Regions from separate parts of the Homo sapiens genome. Here region 2 is linked to region 1. Evidence: fine-mapped expression QTL. A gene starts in region 1. The other region holds a variant in brackets. All regions are shown on one strand. Distances are from middle to middle. Region 1 holds the start of PNMA8A (PNMA family member 8A). Region 2 has its middle 10 kb from the start of PNMA8B.

What was found. PIP is the estimated chance that this variant, and not a neighbour inherited with it, causes the effect.
Region 2: its variant is the best candidate, but not a certain one, in a credible set for the expression of PNMA8A in ileum (GTEx, PIP 0.53).

What each region holds. Positions count from the first base shown.
Region 1 is chr19:46,469,923-46,472,832 of GRCh38, forward strand. It overlaps PNMA8A (PNMA family member 8A), which reads right to left and starts at 1,641. Exons shown (of 3, transcript NM_018215.4): 1 at 1,415-1,641; 2 at 1-1,192. The coding sequence starts at 1,113.
Region 2 is chr19:46,504,775-46,507,684 of GRCh38, forward strand. No RefSeq gene overlaps it. Among named protein-coding and RNA genes, the nearest start is that of PNMA8B, 10 kb to the left of the region's middle. The variant T/C (reference allele first, on the strand shown) is at 1,247.

The sequences.
Region 1 (2,910 bases):
AGGGCCCAAGCTCACCTTCTTCTTCTTCCTCATGGGAGCGGGGTTCTTGGCAGACACCCAGGCCACGGCCTTCTTCTTTGGTGGGCTTTCATGGCCACCATCTTGGTCTGACTCAGAGGCGCCTCCTGGGCTCTCGGCTTCTGCCCGGGCATCCTGAGGTGGCTCTCTGGGACCCTTCCAGGCACATTTCGCCATGGGCTTCTTCAAAGCCAACTCCTCCTTATTCACACAGGGCTTTCTGCTGCCCTTGATCGGCTCTGAGATCGCCATGCTTTCAGCATCACCCACCTCAGGATCCTCCAAGTTAGCTGTGCTGTTGGAATTGATGCCTTTGGGTTTTTTCCAGGGCACTGCTTCCTGCCTGGAGTTCTTCTTCTGCTTCTTTCTCCTGGAGCGAGACTTAGCTCCAGCCCTGCGAACCAAAGGTTTGGTAGGCTCATGCTGGTCTTCCGTGGCATTCCAGTTGTTGGGGGTCTCTGCCTTTAAGGCAGAACCCACCTCTGCTGCAAGCCCCGGTTCTTTCTTCACCTTCCTCCCTGCTGCTAAAGCCCAGGCTGCCATCTCCTCGAATTCAGCGGCCTCCTGGGCCCTGGCTTCCTCCCGGCTGCGGATCTCGGCATCCATGCAGAAGATGATCTGCACCACTGCTCCCAGAAGCACCCCCAGAGCTTCTGCCCAGTTCTCTGGGGGCTGATGCTGGTTCTGGGACAGGGTGGGGTGGTTGAGCTGGAGCAGGCGGACCACATCCTCCCAGGTGCGCCCCTCGGCATCCAGGAATTCATTCAGATTTTTTAAAAACTCGGCATCCTGGGTAGGGTCTCTACAGACCACTCTCCAGACACCACCCCTTCCTGGGAATTCACGGGGGATGGTGCTCAGATTCACACCTTCACCAACCTCAATGAGGGCAGCTTTAACATTCTCTTCCCTCACAAAAATCTTGTTGAGCACGCGGTACGGGCCCAGTGGGGAGAGGACCCCATTCAAGGTCTCCTCAATTTCTGCCTGCCCACAGTCCTCTGGGATGCCTGTGACCAACAAGGACCTGTGGATGTCCACTTCCATTCCCCTGCACCAATCCTCCAGAAGGTTCATCGCCATGGTCTTGGACATTTAGCGGCTCTGAACCTACTATGTGTAGTAAATAGTCTATCAGGTGGACGTGGGCTGCAGCGGTCTCCAAACAGTAATCCTGCAAGGTGACAAGGGAGCGAGGTCACGTTCCCAGGAAGATGACCAAGCTCACAGATCCTAGCTGCCCCCTCCGCGGCTGGCCTGCAGGAGGCCTGGCGCTTTCCCAACACCCTCCTCCCCAACCCAGGCCCCGGTGCTCACACGTGTCCCTGAATCTGCAGCAAAAGGCCCTAGGACCCTCCCCCGGGCCTGACGCTCCGCCTGCCCAGCCGGGACTTACTTGGCAGATCAGCCTCCGACCGCCCAGCCAGGCCAAGGAGACGCAGTGGAATGCAGCCGTTTCCCAGTCGCTGGCTCCGGCTACCCCGGCGCCGCTGCTAGAGGCAGAAAGGGCCAAGAAGGCGCCGTCCGCCCCCGCTCCGGCCCAGGCGGGTCACGGGGCGTCCAGACTCGATGCCGTTAGCGGCGAGAAGCCGAGGTTGGCGTCGCAGCGCGCGCCTGCGCACTGGCTCCCGCACCGCCGCTCGGGGGTCTTGGGCTGCGCAGGTGCCGACGTCTCCATGGCAACCGGGCGTGGGTTGCTAGGGCTGAGCCCGGCCGGCGCGCCGGCGCTGCAATTGGACCTAGGGAGCCGGGTGCAAGAGTGGCCTGTTCAGGTCGCAGAGCAAGCGGGTCTGGATACACTCCGGTGGCGCCTCCACGGAGGCCCTCTTTCAACCCAAGTGGGCCTCGCGAACGGGGGTTAGGTCGATGAGAAGCGCCAACACCTATGGCTGCACCCACTGACTGTATTATCCTCTGCCCCACCTGTTGGATTCACCCAACGCAACTCTTGGGAGACACTAGAAATCAAGAAAGGAGGAAAACGAGGCTTTAATCTTCTTGGGTTCCTCCAACAGCAGGTGCAGTTCCTGTTGGGCTTGTAGCCTTCTCTCTTACAAGCTGCTGGGTTCTTCCAGGAATTTCCAGAAACTTCTAGAAATTTCTTAGTCTCCTCCCCGACCCCTTCTAGCATGAGGATAATGCCTCGCCTTTTCTTGTTTCCTCAACGTGATTCAGGGCAGGTTCTTGGCATCCTCCAGGCAGGGGACAATGTTACAGCTCAGTGACTGCCCCTACAGAGAAGTGTTAGTCCAAACTGCAACCATTTTGTAAGCCCTGACTATTTTGCAGATCTTGGTCAAAGTGAAATATTCCACGGGGGTTCGGGCCAATGAGAAACATCCTGCCTAATCACCTGACCACAAGGCGGACAAAGGCCCAGCTAAAGAAACATTATCATACCCTATCGTGCAAAGGCCCAACTGAAGAAACATCCCTATCATATTCTGCTGGGAGAAAGTGCAGAGAACACCACATTCCACCAGAACAAGGGCCAGAACCGCCTCATCATGGAACCATCTTATCAACATCCTGCTGGGCAGCAAACCATACTGCTCAGACCCCTCCCACCCATAACTATAAGTACCCCCAGCCTATAAGCAGCAGTGGGCTCTGGCATTAGGCTGGTTACCCACTTCCACAGGTGTCTGCAGTATACCTGAGTTGCTGTTGAGCCGCCTTCTGTCTGTGTGTCTTTAACCCTCACCTTCCCTCCAAAACCTAACAAGGAGGGCTACCCTCTAGGCAGTGTGCTGAGAATAGCACCTCGGGGCAAGGCTGCAGTCACATTTATACCCACTTTTAATGACGTGCTAATTAAGGGGTGGGTTTTCAGAATTAGCAAATTGGCAGTAACTTATGGGTGTTGCCATGGCAATGGTAAACTGTCATGGT
Region 2 (2,910 bases), 35 kb after region 1:
ACATCCACTTGCTCTGTGTCTTTCAAGGTTAGCTGGATGCTAGGTGACTTCCAAGGTTAGTTATAAAAGGCTTTTGCCTGGTTCTTCTGGAATAATTACTGCTTGGAACTTAGCTGCCATGCCGTGAGGAAGCCCAACTCACATGGAGAGCTCTGCATGTAGGTGCTCAAGTCAACAGCTCCAACTAAGTCCAGTCTTCAAATCATCTCAAACCAGGCACCGGACATATGAGTGATGAAGCTTCCAGATGATTCCAGACCCTAGCCATTGGGGTCATCCCAGCTGTGGCCCCACACATTATGGGGCCAAAAGAAGCCATCCCCTTTCATAACTATGGACCCATGGAATCTATGGGCATAATGAGATGTTGCTGCTTTATGACACTAAGTGAGGGTTGGTTTGTTACACAGCGAAAGTAACCAGTGCACACCCAGATCCATCTCCTGCTCCCACATACACACAGCACAAATACTCTACCATAAATGTTCTTGTACACATTTTCTTATGATGTTGAATGAGAATGAGACACTGAGACTGCCCTTGGCATAGGTCCCAGGAGCAGAATTGCTTGGGTCTGCATATTCCTTTATTTATTTATTTATTTTTGTCACCGAGTGACAGTAGCCATCATGGCTCACAACAGCCTTGACTTCCTGCACTCAGGTGATCCTCTTGCCTTAGCCTCCTGGGTAGCTGAGACTACAGGTATGCACCACCACGTCTTGCTTATTTTAAAAAAATTTTTGTAGAGATAGGGTCTCACTATGTTGTCTGGGCTGGTCTCGAACTCCTGGGCTCAAGCAATTCTCCTTCCTAAGCCTCTCAAAGTGCCGGATTACAGCATGGGCCACTGCGCCTGACTAGGGTCTGCGTATTCCTAACTCTACCAAGTCCTACAAGTCACTCAGTGCAATGAATGTCCCTATTTGCTCACATATGAGGATTCCTGTGCCCCCAGTGCCCACTCCCACCTCTGGAGATTGTCCAGGCTTCTAGGATTTGCCCATCTCATGGGCATAAGGTGGTAGCTCATTGTTCTCCAACTACAAATGAGTTTGCACATCTCTTTTTTAGTTTATTTGGAAATCCCCTTCTTTAAATATCCTGTTCATAGTGTTTTCCCATTTTCTCATTGCTGTTTGTGCTTTTACCACCACAACTGTTGACTTTTTTTTTTTTTTTAGACAGTCTCGCTCTGTTGCACAGGCTGGAGTGCAGTGGCACTATCTCGGCTCACTATAAGCTC[T/C]GCCTCCTGGGTTCACGCCGTTCTCCTGCCTCAGCCTCCTGAGTAGCTGGAACTACAGGCGCCCGCCACCACACCCGGCTAATTTTTTGTATTTTTAGTAGAGACAGGGTTTCACTGTGTTAGCCAGGATGGTCTCGATCTCCTGACCTGTGATCCGCCCGCCTTGGCCTCCCAAAGTGCTGGGATTACAGGCGTGAGCCACCGCACCCGGCTAATTGTTGACTTTTTTGAACAGAGCCCAATGCAATTCCTAAAGGTATTTTAGCTCTTTCTGTTGCTCCAATAATATATTGTTAAATGTGAATAACATTTCTATAATACAAAGAGGATAGTATAACATGGTGCTCAGTAAATCTTGTATTGAACAGATGGAGGAAGAAAGGAAAGGAGGAATTATAACATCACACACACCATGCCAAGGGATGATCTTATGCCAGACATTGGCTAGAATAGCCTTTAATATATTGCTTCATTTAATCTTCACCACAGTCATGTAAAGCCAGCCCCATTATTATCTCTATTTCCCAGATGAGAAATCTGAGGCTGTGTGTGTGTGCACACACACGCAGGGTGGAAGGTCTTTTACAACTGGGAAGTGGTGAGACATCAATTTGACCTCAGGTCTCTGTGACTCCAAACCTCTGATTCTTTTGTTTGTTTGTTTGTTTGTTTTTGAGATGGAGTCTTGCTCTGTGAGCAGGCTGGAGCGCAGTCGCGTGATCTCGGCTCACTGCAACCTCCGCCTCCTGGGTTCAAGTGATTCTCCTGCCTCAGCCTCCCAAGTAGCTGGGATTACAGCCACCTGCCACCACGTCCAGCTAACTTTTGTATTTTTAGTAGAGACGGGGTTTCACCATGTTGGCCAGGATGGTCTCGATCTCTTGACCTCATAATCTGCCCGCTTTGGCCTCCCAAAGTGCTGGGATTACAGGCGTGAACCACCGTGTCTGGCTCCAAACCTCTGATTCTAACAGGGATACTAGGCAGACTTTCAGCAGCACCATCCCTCCTCAGCACTCATTCATTCATTTGTTCATTTAATCATTTAGCAAACACAAAGAACCCACACGTGTGGGATATGACTGTGACTACATCAGACCAGGGCCTGGCTGACATCATAGGGAGATCAGATATGAACCACTAATAACTACGAATTCATAATGATGAAAAGAGTGAATAAATTACTTCACAGACTTTCTGTGGATTTTCATGTGATGATGAAAAACAGTGAGCTGGGTCCCAATGTATTTCCTGGCAACTGGCCATGTTCTATTGTTGCAGAGAAGCAAGATATAGGATGAAGTGTATCAGTGATTCCATTCACACTAGAGCGGACCATGAAATATGGATTTCAACCTTAGTCAAGCCTCATCATGTTCCACCTTAGAAAATGCTAAAAAATGTTAACCCACTATTTGCAAAAGAAAACAAAAAGCTGGGCTGGGCGCAGTGGCTCACGCCTGTAATTCCAACACTTTGGGAGGCCGAGGCCGGTGGATCACCTGAGGTCAGGAGTTCGAGACTAGCCTGGCCAACATGGCGAAACCCCATCTTTACTAAAAAAGCAAAAGTTAGCCGGGCATGATGGTGGGTGCCTGCAATCCCAGCTACACAGGGGGCTGCGGCAGAAGAATCACTTAAACCCCAGAAAGTAGAGGTTGCAG